Homo sapiens: one gene and its partners. The protein of the gene in region 3 purifies or fractionates together with the protein of the main gene of each other region. This does not show direct contact. Each region holds a gene or a part of one and is shown on either strand. Other genes may lie near its edges.

Evidence for each region.
Region 1: the proteins of SLC35F2 (region 3) and POMK purify together in Homo sapiens (affinity purification with mass spectrometry; 4 studies listed by BioGRID and IntAct, with this or other methods). This does not show direct contact.
Region 2: the proteins of SLC35F2 (region 3) and TEX264 purify together in Homo sapiens (affinity purification with mass spectrometry; 2 studies listed by BioGRID and IntAct, with this or other methods). This does not show direct contact.

The regions. Positions count from the first base shown.
Region 1 is NC_000008.11:43,117,507-43,123,968, reverse strand, and holds the end of POMK (protein O-mannose kinase), read right to left. Parts: intron 1,863-6,462; coding exon 1,092-1,862; 3' UTR 535-1,091; downstream 1-534. UniProt on the Homo sapiens protein: Protein O-mannose kinase that specifically mediates phosphorylation at the 6-position of an O-mannose of the trisaccharide (N-acetylgalactosamine (GalNAc)-beta-1,3-N-acetylglucosamine (GlcNAc)-beta-1,4-mannose) to generate phosphorylated O-mannosyl trisaccharide (N-acetylgalactosamine-beta-1,3-N-acetylglucosamine-beta-1,4-(phosphate-6-)mannose).
Region 2 is NC_000003.12:51,702,244-51,704,857, reverse strand, and holds the end of TEX264 (testis-expressed protein 264), read right to left. Parts: intron 1,135-2,614; coding exon 842-1,134; 3' UTR 535-841; downstream 1-534. UniProt on the Homo sapiens protein: Major reticulophagy (also called ER-phagy) receptor that acts independently of other candidate reticulophagy receptors to remodel subdomains of the endoplasmic reticulum into autophagosomes upon nutrient stress, which then fuse with lysosomes for endoplasmic reticulum turnover.
Region 3 is NC_000011.10:107,806,781-107,813,822, forward strand, and holds part of SLC35F2 (solute carrier family 35 member F2), read right to left. Parts: intron 5,015-7,042; coding exon 4,887-5,014; intron 97-4,886; coding exon 1-96.

The DNA.
Region 1 (6,462 bases), on a different chromosome or scaffold from region 3:
TATATGTTACCTATAACAAACTCACTTCACATGTAAAAACACATATAGACTGAAAGTGAACAGATGGAAAAAAATATTCCGTGCAAATTTAAACCAAAAATGTGCAGGAGTAGCTATACTTATTCATAATAGACTAAGTCAGAAAACATAAAAAGGGACAAAGAAGATCATTACATAATGAAAAAGGGATCAATTCAGCAAAAGGATGTAACAATTTTAAATATATATGCACCCAATACCAAAGTACTCACATGTATAAACAAACACTATTAGAGCTAAAGAGAGAGGCAGATCCTAATACAAAAAAAAGCAGGGGATTTTAATGCCTCACTTTCAGTATTGGGCAGATCATCTAGAAAGAAACATCAGACTTAATCTGCATTATAGACCAAATGGACCTAACAGACATTTACAGACCCTTTCTTCCAACAGCTGCAGAATATACATTCTTCTCATCAGCACATGGACCATTCTGCAGCATAGACCATATGTTAGACCACAAAACAAGTCTCAATAAATTTTTAAAAATCTAAATCATATCAAGTACCTTCTCAGACCACAATGGAAGAAAAGTAGAAATCAATAACGAGAAACTTTGGAAACTACAAATCCATGGAAATCTAACAACTGGCCAGGCATAGTGGCCCATGCCTGTAATCCCAACACTTTGGGAGGCCGAGGAAGTCAGGAGTTCGGGACCAGCCTGGCCAACATGGTGAAACCCCACCTCCACTAAAAATACAAAAATTAGCCAGGCGTGGTGGTGTGCCTGTAATCCCAGCTACTCAGGAGGCTGAGGTGGGAGAATTGCTTGAACCTGGGAGGCAGAGGCTGCAGTGAGCCAAGATCACATCACTGCACTCCAGCCTCAGCAACAGAGCAAGACCGCATCTCAAAGAAAAAAAAAAAAATCTAACAACCAATGTGGACTACATACAAACGTACATGTGGATGTGGACAACGAACCACATGGCTAAGCCATAAAAAAAACAATAAAACACGAAACTCAGGCAAAAAACTCCACCATCAGAGTAGAATGCTGTAACTTCCATTCAGCCCTTCAATCCCACCTTCATTGGCTGGACTGGTTTTCACAGCATCTCTCTTGCCTGAGACATCATGGCATCTCTAAGTGTATCCAAGACCTTCTGGTAGGTCTCCAGAACGTCCTGGGCAGTGGGTCTTTCTGAGGGAGTCTGGCTCTTGCATGCTTTGTGAATATCAAACAAATGGAATCGGACCATATCACTCCCTTCAATGTGCCCCAGAAGGAAACTGGAGATGTCTGGGATCTTCCAAATGTCAATCTTCTCATCATATGAGGGCATGAGATCATCGTGGAAAGGCACGTCCTCTCCATAGGGCCACAGTTGCTCTGGAGCCACGAAATCCCCATGCAGCTCCCTGTGGCCGCACTTCACCAGCATCCCGGAGCTGTGGTTCACCAGGGGTAAGGCGTCCAAGTCATTTGCCAAAATGCTGAAGTTGCTTGTTAGCAGATACTGGGACAGTGTCTTCGGCAGGTCGTTGGAGTCGCACATGACCCGTGTGCCCACAGGGCTGTGGTGCAGGTAATTAATGATGCTGACATAGTCCATGGCCAGCTCCAGCCTGTGCTGCCACGTGTTCACATTTTGGTACTTTGAAAGGTTTAGTGTTTCTTCCAGGTTACTCAAGGAACCTAGAGGGTGATATTCAGTAAGCATAGTGTTGTCATCCTCACAATAGCCAAGCAGCGTGACAACATGTGTGCCTTGGAGAGATTTCAGCATCTGCAGTCCATGGAGGAAATCATCTTTCATCTCCAGGCTGGTGAGCTGTGAGAGTGCAACTTTGTGCTCCTTCCACTCAGACAGAAAGACCTGCAACAAAGCCATAGAGAGCATCAGGCCTGAACTCTCACCTAATTTAGTGACCAAAGAACAACAAATATCTTTTAAGTGGCAGGTGTTCTGCAGAAGATACAGAAATTAACAAGGTGCAGACCCCATCGTAGAGTTGCTCTCCGTCTAGTTATGAAGAGAGACCGATGAGCAAACACAGCATTCAGCAAGGCAAGTGCCACATTAGTGGGTGGAACCTCAGGGCAGGAAGCGATTGCCTCTGGGCAGGACACTGAGAGCTGCTGCAGAGGGTGCTGGAAGGCTTTGGGAAGCTGGTCTCATAGAACGAGGGGGACCTGCAGATTCAATGTAGGGCAGGGGAGTGCTAGCTCAGGAGGGAAGACTCCATATAACTGCATGGCAGGGAGGAGTGGCAAGTAGACTGCCAGTTCCAATGGACCACCACACAGTGGGTGGGGAGGAAGAGGAGGCAGGGGAGTGGACTGGAAAAGTGGGTAAGTGTGGAGACCCCGAAAAGCCTACATGAGGGCGTAGAGCCCTGCCCATCACGTGTAACAATGTTACTCATTAATTTTAAAAGGTGGCATAGTAAATCATAAATAGGAACATTTATATGTAAGGAAAACATTTTTGCATGTTCTGTGGTTTGGTGTTACTTCAGCTGTAAAGGCAGGAGCTGAAATGCTACATAAACACTAGACCTTCTCATAGAGTCCACAGCTAATAGAAGAGCAAGTTCACATTTCTGCCTTGGATTTTCACCTTTCATTTGCTTGCAGGAAGCACTGTAATTAAAGGAAGAACCTCTGATCTTTTGCTTAAATCCCAAGAGAAGGCAGAAGATTACAAAAGAGAAAGCAGGCTCAGGACTCAGGAGATTCCTGCCCCAGGCTCATTCTGCAAGCAGTGTGCCATGTCATTGTTCAAATAAAGGTTATGGTTTCCAAAGCAGTTTTTTGCATTATTTATCAAGAGACTCTAACATCTAAATCTAAGGCAATAATCGGAAATAGGTAAGAAGCTCCAGGAATAAAAATCTGACATTATTTATAAAAGCATACACTGAAACTTATCAAAAGATGGGAGCAGCATGATCAACATAGTGAGAACCCATCTCTACAAAACATTTTTTAGAAACTAGCAGGGTGGGCCAGGCGTGGTGGCTCACACCTGTAATTCCAACACTTTGGGAGGCCAAGGCGGGTGGATCACCTGAGGTCAGGAATTCAAGACCAGCCTGACCAACATGGAGAAACCCTGACTCTACTAAAAATACAAAATTAGCCAGGCGTGGTGGTGCATGCCTGTAATCCCAGCTACCTGGGAGGCTGAGGCAGGAGAATCACTTGAACCCGGGAGGCAGAGGTTGCCGTAAGCCAAGATCACGCCACTGTGCTCCAGCCTGGGCAACAAGAGTGAAACTCTGTCTCAAAAAAAAAAAAAAAGAAAGAAATTAAGAAACAAGCAGGGTGTAATGGAGCGTACATGTACCCCCAGCTACTCAGGGGAGGCTGAGGTGGGAGGATCATTCAATATATATATATATCATGCGGTCACCAAAATGTATATATTTATACAGTTATAACAGATAAAAGTAATGGTACGGCTGGGTGCGGTGGCTCATACCTATAATCCCAGCACTTTTGGAAGCCAAGGCAGGCAGATCACCTGAGGTCAGGAGTTGGAGACCAGCCTAGCCAACATGACGAAACCTAAAACCTAAAACCTCTACTAAAAATACAAAATTAGCCGGGCATGGTGGTGCATGCCTGTAATCCCAGCTACTCAGGAGGCTGAGGCAGAAGAGTAGCTTGAACCCCAGGAGGTGGAGGTTGCAGAGAGCCAAGATCACACCATTGCACTCCAGCCTGGGTGAACAAGAGTGAAACTCCATCTCAAAAAAAAAAAAAGCAATGTTACAAATGAGAAGTATACAAAACCATTTGTATAATATTGTTCCAACTGCATAAAACGAGACAAATTTAAATTACAGCACATGGAAATCAAAGGAAATATGCTAATGCCTTAGTTGTCTTTATGTGGTAAGATTCTGGGTGATTTTTTTTTCCTTCATATCTTTTGGTATTTTCCAAGATGAACATATATTACTTTTACAACTTAAATTTTTTAACTCAAAAATATATAAAATTTCAGAAAAACTAACATTGGGAATTTAAAAAAAAAAAAAGAAAAAGAAATATTATATAAAATGGAGTTAGACCCAAGGACCATGAAGATCTTTTCTGGATCTAAGAAGGGAGGTTCATTATGGAAAAACCCAGATAACTTTGATTGGCTCATAACATTCAAATGAAAACTCTTTCAAGACTCTCTAATCCTCATATTTGAGAAATTTCACTAAGGATAATAACTTCTATTAAAAAGCTGTTTTTGGGCCGGACGCGGTGGCTCACGCCTGTAATCCCAGCACTTTGGGAGCCGAGGCAAGAGGATCACAAGGTCAGGAGATCGAGACCAGCCTGGCAACATGGTGAAACCCCATCTCTACTAAAAATACAAAATAATTAGCTGGGCGTGGTGGCGCGCGCCTGCAGTCCCAGCTACTCAGGAGGCTGAGGCAGGAGAATTGCTTGAACCCAGGAGGCAGAGGCTGAAGTGAGCCAAGATCACACCACTGCACACCAGCCTGGTTAGAGACTTCGTCTCAAAAAAAAAAAAAAAAAAAAAAAAGCTGTTTTTCACTCTGGCTGCTACATGCACTAAAAATTTCCTAATTTTTAAGGACTAGATAAGACCACATTCTAAAAGTTCAAGATTTTTTTAAATTTTCATATTGAACACACGCTCTCCATAGATTTGCATCCCACTGAATCTGATAATTGGCTCTAATACGAACAACTGAGGTTTTGTTCAGATCCATGGCTTCCTTACGCCCACCTCTGCATGGTCACCACCAGAACTGGCAATGGCTTTGGTTTTCTAGGCCCATTTTTCACCTAAAAACGATGCTGGCTTTTGGGAAGCTGCTGCTACACATTCAACAATAAGTGGGGGGCCGGCCGCAGTGGCTCATGCCTGTAATCCCAGCACTTCAAGAGGCCGAGGCGGGTGGATCACGAGGTCAGGAGATCAAGACCATCCTGGCTAACATGGTGAAATCCCATCTCTACTAAAAATACAAAAAATTAGCCGGGCATGGTGGCAGGTGCCTGTAGTCCCAGCTACTCAGGAGGCTGAGGCAGGAGAATGGCAGAATGGCATGAACCGTGGAGGCGGAGCTTGCAGTTAGCCGAGATCAGGCCACTGCACTCCAGCCTGGGCAACAGAGCGAGACTCCGTAACAACAACAACAAAAAAAACAGTAAGTTGGGGAGGCTCAGCCACAGGCCCCAGGGCTCCTGATCCCTCATTTGTGTCTCATTCATTTTTGTTTCAGATAAATGAAGATTATTAAATATTATTATGAAATACTATTAGTCTTTGAGATCACACACAAATATTTGAATCCTCCAATATAAAAAATTTGCTAGTCATGGACTGTTTAAGAATCATTTCTCACAACCTCTAATTTAGTTGCTTTTAATCATTTTCTAAAAGACTTTTATTTGGAAAGAACAGTTAAAATACTTTACTTTTTTATTATAAAATTAATCGTGAACACTTTTCTTGGTAAAAACTCAAATACAGAGGATAGGCAGGATGTCTCCCTGCCCCCAGTTTTACTTCCCGACCCAAAGGAAACCTGGTAACTGGCTGTCATCCTCCCAGAAGTTTTTCTATGCCTTTATTTATTAATGTACACTTGTAAAACAGCATTTGGGTTTGCTGTTATACTAATGGCGTTATAACATACATACATTGCAGCTCTTTTTTCATTTAACTGAGCCTCAGAAATCCTTTCCATATATACATGTAGATCTAGGCCATTCTTTTTAAAGCTGAGTAATGTTTCATAGTGTGGGCATAATACCTACACTTGTGTATTTCCAGTAAGCTTTTACAGATACTACTACCTTTTTTCTTTAAAATTAAAGTATAATATAATAAAAATACCAGGAATTTGGAATTGATGCTGTCAAAATAGACTGGATTCTTTCTTAAGATTATTATGTAGCTATAATTTTGTAAAGACCTTTAATAAGATCTTATATGATCTATTTCTAAAGACCTGGACATTTAAGTTAGTCCCTTTTCTAATGACAATGCTACAGTGTATAGCCTTATATTTACATGTCTATGTACATGCACAAATATTTTATAAGCTAGGTAGGCAGACAGAATTTACCAAATATCTATTGCCATCATTACCCTCCAAAGTCTGTGCTAGCATGCACTTTCACCAGCAGCGCATGATAGAATCTTAGGAATACACCCTTAGTCACACCAGATTATTACCACTGTTTGTAATTTGTGCCAATCAATGGATGAAAATACCTTACTCTTCTAATTTGTATTTCCCTGATTACTAATAAGGCTAGGCATTTGTCATCTTTTTAGGCATTTCTGTATTTCTGCTGTCAAAAGTCTGTTCACTGTCCTTTATCCAATTTTCTATAGGGTTGTCTGCCTTGTGCTTATTAATTACTGGGAGCTCTTTATATATACTTGACCCTTGAACAACACGGGTTTGAACTGCGCAGTTCCACTTACACACAGA
Region 2 (2,614 bases), on a different chromosome or scaffold from region 3:
CTCAGCCATGCTCAGGTACAATCATACCCTGATGCTCACCTGGGCACAGCTTTACCCAAGCAGCCCCATCCATCCGTGGTTACACAGAGCCAAATGCATGAGCGTGGGTGCACATGCACACACACAGGTACACAGCCACTGGCAGGCACAGTGGGGGAGCCTCGCCTACTGGGGAAGTACCAGCGTGCAGGCACACTAGTCACAGACACAAAGGCATCCCTTGGAGGCAGATGAAGACAGGCTGTGAGCTCCCCATTCCTGAGCCCTGAAGGGCACCCCATACTCAGCTCTCACCCAAGCCAGGCTCTGCTTGCTCTCTGGCAGCTGCAATGGAGGGGCAGCTGGCCACTGGGGTCACAGAGCAGGACGTGGAGGATCTCTAACTCCCCTCCTCCCCCAACCCCAGGGTACCTGCCATGTTCCTTCCATTCTTTGTCCTGGGGAGGGGAGGCTCCTTCCCACTCCCAGCCTATCTGTACAGCCATCCCCCCACCGCCCCCAACCAAGGCAGAACAAACAAATACACAACCCAAATCCAGGTGAAACAAGTAAATCATTGGCTTTATTCTGGGTCCTGGAAGCTCCACTGTGAGTCTGAAAAAAAGACACAACAGGGGTGGCAGCCCTGGGGGCTGGTGCAGAAAATAGTCCCTGGCTCCTCTGGCCCTGGGAGCCTAAAGGGCAGTGAGGAGAAGGCTTAGCAAGAGGCCTGGAGCAGGGGAAGTCAGGTCCCTCAGGAACCCCTCCTCCCCCAGAGGAAGGAGGAAGAGGGCTGGAGAGTCTGCTGGAGAGTCTGCTCAGTTCCTCAGCAACTGCACTGCAGGAGGGTGCAGGCCATGGGTTACTCCTTGCCCTTCTCAGGGGCAGTGGGCTCCCAGAGCCACTTGGTAGTCCCCAGGGGCTCAGTCCCAGGGTCCAGCCGTGACTCCCCTAAGGGCCCCTCGCCCTCCAAGTCCAGCTCCTCAAAAGAGGAGCCGCTGGCACCTGACTCGCTGTAGCTGTGCTCGCTGCGGGTGTCACCGTCATCCCAGCCACGGCTGCTCGCCCCAGGTGACAGTGTGGCAGCTGAAGTCTCCCGGCTGCCAGGGCTCACTTCCAAGCTTACAGAACTCGTGTCACTCATTGTGTCAGCTCCTATGACCAGGAAAAGGGAGCACAGGTTAGCTAGGACCACCCCACCCCCTCCTCCAGGGAGAGGCAACTCAGCACGCAGTGCACTCATGAATAATGCAGCCTCCCGGGCTCAGGGGGCTTGCTCCAGCTGCCCTCTGCCCTCTACCCTGACTGGGGCTGCACAGACAGGGCAGAGGGAAAGAGCTGGGAGGAAGGGAGGGAGGGAAGGAGGGAGGGAGGGAGAGAGGGTGGGAGGAGGCAGCTGTGCACTCTTCTCCCCACTCTAAATTAGCCTCAGCTCCCTGCACTTCCACAAAGCCTGCTGCCCTCCCCCCACATTTATTAAGGGCCACTCAGCCCTGAGGTGAGGAGCTGAGGTAGAACAAAGAGACACAAGTAGTGTCCTCTCCACCTTCCCCCACCCCCACTTCAAGCTTGGAAAGAGATGTGTCCAGGGCCAGCTACAGAACATCACCCACAGGGCACGAGGACTGCAGAATGCAGCAGGAGGCCCCTCTGCAGCCCTCCCCCGTGCAGGGCTCCCAGGAGCAGCATCCAGGGAGTCAGCAGGCCCCTGCCTCTGGTACACACCAAGTCCCAGTTGAGGAGGGAGCTGAAGTACGAGGAGGATGGAGAAGGCCTGAGAAATACTCAACCAGCTGCAAGGAGGAGGGTGCTGGGATGAAACATGTTAAGGGTTTTCTCTCCCTATGCCTGGGTCGACCCTGAGAAACCCTTACCCACCCCACCCCCAATGACTGGTGCTTCCTGAGCCACAAGATAGCAAAAGGGGATGATGAGAGCACTCTGCTGGTGGTTGGGGTGCCCCAAACCAGTGCTGAGCCAGGTTGATGGCCCAAACTCCTTCTAACCTGCTCCTTCCACCCCCAATACATCCTCCAAGCAAGCAGCCCCTTCATCTGCCCTGTCCAGGAGCAACCCCTGGGTTCATCTCCCTGGATCAGAGGCACTGAATGCAGGCTGGGGTGGCAAGGAGGAACACATGGCTCAGGCTCGCTGTGTGCAGGAATCCAGACTGGGAGAAAGTGGATCTGCTACCCTTCCTGTATGATGGGGAGAGGGTCAGCTGTCAAACATCACAGAAGGTGAGGGGTTAGCCAGCTTCCCCAGCCACTGTCTCCATGGTGTTGGAGCCAAGCCAGGTGCAGCTGGGGTCTGCTTGGCGCCTGGACTCAGCCTGGGGCTTTCCTTGAGCCTCAAATGGGGCCTAGGTTGGGGGTGGGAGAATTAGGAGAGGGGGGAATTTGGGGTCTCTCCCTACCCCCACCACCCACTCAGCCCCCAGAATATGCCCTCTGGGCGCTACTGGCAGAGGTGAGGTGAGCCCTAGAAGCCCAGGCTGCTGGCCCAGGGCCCTCCTCTTGCTGAGGCCCCAGGTGTGGCTCCCAGGACAGAAGCCTGTGAATGAGGTGGTCAGGGAGCTGGGGGAGCTTTAAGTTTTGGGTAGTTTCTTCTGACCAGGGGACAGGATGCCAGGCCC
Region 3 (7,042 bases):
GACAGCCACGGCGATGAAGTGGATCACTCTGTATCTTGCATGAAGAATAAACCATGACAGAGCCATCAACACAGGAATCCCAAAGCAATCCAAAAGCTGCATGGAAAGAGAATCAACAGTTTAAAACATATCTCTCATTAGCTAAAAGATGGGTAATTAAGAAATAATAGGAGTCAGTATTTATAATAGGAGTCAGTATTTATTGAGCATTTATTATTGCCAGCCCTGTACTAAGAGCTTTACCTGGATTCACTCATTTAATCCTCACAATTCCATGAGACTGAAATTACAATCCAATTTTATACATGAGAAAATGAAGATACAGAGAGGTGAAATGAGTTGCCAAAAACACATAGTTAAAAATGGGATGACAGCTGGGCACGGTGGCTCACGCCTGTAATCTTAGCACTTTGGGAGGCTGTGGCGGGCAGACTGCTTGAGTCCAGGAGTTCGATATCAGCCTGGGCAACATGGTGAAACCCTGTCTGTACAAAAAAAAAAAAAAACAACAACAAAAAAAAACCTTGGGTGTGGTGGTGCACTCCTGTAGTCCCAGCTACTTGGGAGGCTAAGGTGAGAGGATCACTTGAGCCCGGAGTTCAAGGATGCAGTGAGCTGTGATGGTGCCACTGCACTCTAGGCTGTACAACCCAGAGAGACCCTGTCTCAAAATAAATGAATAGATAATAAAATACAATGGAAGAGTCAGTTGCTGTATACAAGAATTCTGCTGAGGGCCTGTGCACTTTACCTCTATGCTCCCACCTGTGTATATCTTTTCTTTTATTTTATTATTATTATTTTTTTTTTGAGATGGAGTCTCGCTCTGTTGCCCAAGCTGGAGCGCAGTGGTGCAATCTCGGCTCACTGCAACCTCTGCCTCTCGGGTTTAAGCAATTCTTCCTGCCTCAGCCTCCCAAGGAGCTGGGATTACAGCCATCTGCCACCATGCCCAGCTAATTTTTGTATCTTTTAGTAGAGATGGGGTTTTGTCATGTTGGCAAGGCTGGTCTCGAACTCCTGATGTCAGGTGATCTGTCTGCCTCGGCCTCCCAAAGTGCTGGGATTACAGGCGTGAGCCACCACGCCTGGCCCTGTGTATATCTTTAAGTTCAGTAGACAAACATTCCTTCCTACCTGCAACCATTTACTCAGTCAACAAATATTTGTTAAACACCTTGCATGTGTGAGACACTGTGAAAGGAGCTAGGAATAGCGGTGAACAGGACAGAGCAAGCTGTGTCCTTAGGAGCACACAAAGCTAGAAAGGACATGGAATAAATAATCACACCACCAGATATTTCACTGGAATCGGGCTAAGCGCTACAAAGAAGCATGGGTTACTGTGAGAGAACAGACACCATCTCCCTGACAAAGCGTCCAACCCCACCATGTGAGACACACTCGTGCTCATGGCAAATACTCTTGCTCATCCTCCTCACATGCTCCCCCTCACCTGTTGATACTGGGTCCAGAAAACACTAGCTATACACCTGATATTGCTCATCTGGAAGGCAGAGGGATTAAGTGTGCCAAAATTACAGCAGGTCCAAAATTGTTTGCAAGATAAAAGATAAAAAAGAGAGTGCACTCACTCAATTCTTAAATTCACAAATTTAATGTGCATTCAAGGATAAAATATATTCAAGAGATTCTTGATGCATTCCAATGTATTTCTTTCAAGGAAGAAATATATTCCTTATACCAGTAATATTCCCGAAACTGCTGTTTTATTGCTCACCCTTTTGTTGTTTCAAACCTTGTCCCTGATTCTCTCTGTATCTGTTTGGTCTTGAACAAGACAGGCCCCTAAATCTCCAACAGCCCATTCGATCCTGTCCACAGTTGTTTACTGATTGCCTTTCACTGCAGTAGCATCAGTGGAGTCCAACGCATCATGTGTAGGAATGGGCATCTTGCCTTGTTATTTATTCCAGCTGCAGAACTCTAATCTCCTAAGTGCTTTATTGAGCCTGCCTGAATAACAAAACATTAAACGATGCAAATGATAATACCCTGTCCCTGAAGACACCAGCAGAATCCAGCCATAACGGCTTAACAAAATCTCAACTACATTCCTTAAACAAAAAAAGTAGAAAAAGACATTCTAAGAACTACCACAGAAGAGTCCCTTGTGTCTTAAAATCAAACTTAAATTTGCTCTATCTTTAACAACTTTTGTTGGGCAATGAGGGAGATGCCTATGTCATGATCAGAGCTCCAGAAACCTCAGGCCCCGGCCCCACGCTGACCAGCTAGCTGTGTGGCCCCAGCCAGTCACTCTCCAAGTCAAAATATAAAATAAAAAGATCAGACGAAATGATCACACAGTTTCCCTCCGACTCTAACATTCCATGACTTCTCATCTGATATCTATCACCTTTAGTCATGTGAACCTTCTTTTCAAAATGTATTCTTGGTGGCCGGGAGTGGTGGCTCATGCCTGTAATCCCAGCACTATGAGAGGCCAAGGCCGGAGGATCACTTGAGGTCAGGAGTTCGAGACCAGCCTGGCCAACATGGCAAAACCTCGTATCTACTCAAAATACAAAAAAAAAAAAAAAAAAAAAAATCAGCTGGGCGCATGCCTGTAATCCCAGCTACTCAGGAGGCCAAGGCTGCAGTGAACCAAGATTATCCCACTTCACTCCAGCTCGGTGACAGAATGAGACTCCACCTCAAAAAAAAAAAAAAAAAAAAAATTAGCCAAGTGTGGTGGCGCGTGCCTGTAATCCCAGCTGCTCAGGAGGCTAAGGCAGGAGAATCACTTGAACCTGGGAGGCGGAGGCTGCAGTGAGCCAAGATCATGCCATTGTACTCCAGCCTGGGTGACAGAGCAAGACTCCTTCTCAGAAAAAAAAAAAGTATTCTTGGTGATGGATGTCTTCTCTGTTTCAGTTCGAAGAGTATCAATTTTATTTTTAAAAATTATTGTATAGTCACAGTAAGCAGAGTACTAAGACAGACCCTGCGACATGGGTATAAAAACAAGTTAGATCATATTAGAGGTACAATAGAGTATAGAAGAGAAAATGAAAATTGAATTAACCTTTGACAATGAGGGGAGCAGGCTTCAAAAAGGACTGCATTCTAGGAAGAACAGAGCAGCACAGGGGAGAAGGAGCAGGCCATGAGTGGGAAATGGGTTGATGTGGCAGTAAAGTGGGAAGGGACATGAGCAGCAACCTGGGCCACATCATCATCTTCACGTGAACTATCCCATGACTGTTGGTAATTACAGAACCTTCTAAGGAATCCTTAAGAAGAAGGTTCAAAGACCACCTAATCCAGATTTCCATCCTTTTGGACTACCCAGGCCAGAGATTTACTCAGTTGGAGAACCAGCTTGAATCATTCCTATCACAGCTGTCGCTGCTGCTGGAGAAAACATTACCTTGTTAGATGCCTTTTTTATAATATATTCTTTGCTAGGACCGTAAGTGCATGACTTTTGGCAACCAAATGCTTAGGTTTTTCTAAGAGGCTAGCGTGAAAGAAATTGTTTTCAATTTCTTTGAAATTGAAAGAAGGCATGAACTTCAGTCGCAACTATCCAACTGTAAGTGTTCTGTTTAACTGTGTTTAGGCCTTGCACCAATTCAAAACTTTTTATCATTAGTTAGAGATCAAAGTTCCTGGGAATTGTAATCAAGTAATTAAAATGTAGGTGAGATTATGAGAGTAGATGTGACAAGAAAATACCATTTTCTACATACTTATGTATACTTCATTAACCAACGCTAAAAGTACACTTACTCCTATTAGTGATAAACTTCATTCTCTAGGTAACTGCTGGGTTTAATTTTTACGAAACTTTAGGTTCTTTTTGTGCCTCCTATAGTGTCTGTCTTAATAAATCATTTCCTATCTCAGCTTTTTAACCCATACTGGTCAAAATCCAAGAGGTTTCCTGAGAACAATGCTTAGCACAATGTTACAGAAAAGAAAGTAGTTAATATAATGGTAGTAACATTTAATGTAGGTTCACACTGGAAAAATACTGAGTTCTCATCAATCCTTATATTTTCTATGCGAAATAAGTCTAATTTCAATTTTTCCAGTCCCTAAAATTTGGAGTCAAGTAAGAACATCTCTGTATTTTGTATAGTGAGAAAGGGACATATCAAAAAGTTATAAACTTCAAATCCCACATCTGATACACACTTTTTTTTATTATTTAAAAAAATGAAAAAAAAGTTATAAACAAACTGTGACATCTAAACCTGGCATTTGAGTCTATCTCACTTTCACCTCCACTTATAAAACATTTTGTAGTCAGTAATGGTGAGTCAGTGTTAGGAAACATCCCATAGTTTGCTAACATTAAGACAACTGAAATCAGTTGTCTTCAACTTTACAAAGTTGAAAACCTCTGCAATGTAGGAATATTTTTCTTTCAATGCAGCAAGAATAAACCTAACAAAGAAATAGGGATGGGAGTTTTAACTCTGGCTACCACCTCTCCCAAAAATGTCTACTGGGTTTCTTCCAATGGTTTCTTTGTCATGAATATCTACTATGCTTGCAAAGCTTCAACTTTCCTATAGAACAAAGGTATACTTTCATATGCCATGTTTGAGCAGCATATAAAACAGAACACGTGTCAACACCACAGCATCAACTGCCAACTAAATATTTATGCTTATTTGGTAGGAACTGTTCTAATCTGCCATAGCAGTTTGGGGGCAGCTTAAGTTGTATACATTTTCACTAATTCTAGGAAACATTACTCATTAGAGCATATGCTCTACTAGAAAACAGCATCCACCTGTGTTTAGGTTTTCTTCAAGTGAATAGATTTTCAATAAAATTAGGTCAACACATATGACTTCGTGTTCTTCTTTTGAAGCTATAAAATCCAAAGTGGTCAGAGGGCTCCCTCTTACCTGGACACTGGTTAGAGTTGTGTACTGGTAGGCTCTGACGATCACATAATTAGCTTCCACATCTGCTAGTCCCAGCAGGATGTACTTCCACCATTTTCTTTTCAAGATTACTAAAAGGTTATCACTGCCTGGTTGAAAGAAATATGGGTTAGTACATGTTACTTGCAAATGATACCATACATGTTGATTTGAAGATAAAAGAGTAGAAGCAAGAGTTTCTTGTTTTTTTTTCTTTTTTCTTCTTCTTCTTTTTGAGATAGGGTCTCATTCTGTTGCCCAGGTTGGAGTGCAGTGGCACAATCTCGGCTCACTGCAACCTCTGCCTCCTGGGTTCAAGCCATCCTCCCACCTCAGCCTCCTGAGTAGCTGGGACCACAGGCGTACGCCACCATACCCACCTAATTATTTTTGTATTTTTAGCAGAGATGGGGGTCTCACCATGTTGCCCAGGCTGGTCTTGAACTCCTGAGCTCAAGTGATCTGCCTGCCTCAGCTTCCCAAAGTGCTGGGATTTCAGGCGTGAGCTACCACGCCTGGCTATTGTGTATTTCTAATGTGGCCCCCTCCTAGTTTCCATTCTTCATAACCCAAACTCCTGCAACAGCTCACCAGAGTTAGATTTTTTTCTAGCATGAAACCCTAGTTAAAGTATCATCAGAGACCAAGTGTTCAATAAAAGCACCAGAATGAAAGTAAGAGAAAAGTGGTTAAATTCCCTTTCCCAAATGGGCACAGTGGTGTGCACCTGTAATCCCAGCTACTCAGGAGGTTGAGGTGAGGGCAGAGGACAGCTGGAGCCCAGGATTTCAAGACCAGCTGGGCTTACATAATGAGACTCCACCTCTTTAAGAAAAAAAAGAGGGAGGGCAGGGCGGGAGAAGAGCATTAAGGAAAAGAGCTAATACATGCTGGACTTAATACTTAGGTGATGGGTTGATAGCTGCAGCAAACCACCATGGCACGTTTATCTATGTAACAAACCTGCACATTCTGCACATGTATGCTGGAACTTAAAAAAATAAAATAGTTTTTTTTTAAAATCCCTTTCCTATCATAACAGAAACAAAATTTCTGGATATGAGCTTGTATGTCGCCACTTCTGACAAGCCACGGACTATCCTAGGAAATGAAATGTTTTCCTAGAAATTAATTGGTTATTTAACTTCTATTCATGGGCTTCTTCAAAGAAAAGTCTGCAGGTGATCATTCTTTTGGAAGAGGTGTGCTTTCAAGTGAAAATTAAGTCCTCGATAAGCTTGAGAAAAGGCTTAGTGCACACTGAAGAAACACCTTTTATTCCTCCAAATTATATGTATTCAAATTAATTGGATTCACTACTTTGGAGAATCTGTCATCACAGGAGATGCAGAGTTGGCACATATATGAGAAGGTTTTATGGCAAGATAACTCACAAATAAATAAAAGTAGTGAGAATCATAACCAAATAATTATCAGTAAAATCCAGTTAGCAGGAACATCTTGAAAACACAGAATTAGGCCGGGTGCGGTGGCTCACACCTGTAATCCCAGCACATTGGGAGGCTGAGGTGGGCAGATCACCTGAGGTCAGGAGTTCGAGACCAGCCTGGTCAACATGGAGAAACCCCATCTCTATTAAAAATACAAAAATTAGCTGGGCGTGGTGGCAGGTGCCTGTAATTCCAGCTACTAGGGAGGCTGAGGCAAGAAAATCGCTTGAACCCAGGAGGCAGAGGTTGCACTGAGCCGAGATTGTGCCATTGACCTGAAATCGTGCCACTGCATTCCAGCCTGGGCAACAAGAGCGAAACTCCGTCTCAGAAGAAAAACAAAAAACAAAACAAAAACACAGAATTAGTCTTCCTCAGCATCAAATGGCATAGGAAGCACCTAACAACCATCCCTTAGGGAGACTAACTGCACTGATACATTTGGGAGTCTCACCAAATTCCTGAAGGCCAATGCTTCCACAAAGAGCAAAGTCCAGGGTTATTAACCATGTACAGTTCCACTCCCAACTCTTCTTTTTTTTCCTTTGGAGACAGGGTCTTGGTCTGTCATTTGGGCTTGACAGCAGTGGTGTGATCTTGGCTCACTGCAACCTCAGCCTCTTGGGATCAAGCCATCCTCCACCTCAGCCTCCCAAGTAGCTGGGACTACAGGGACATGCCATCATG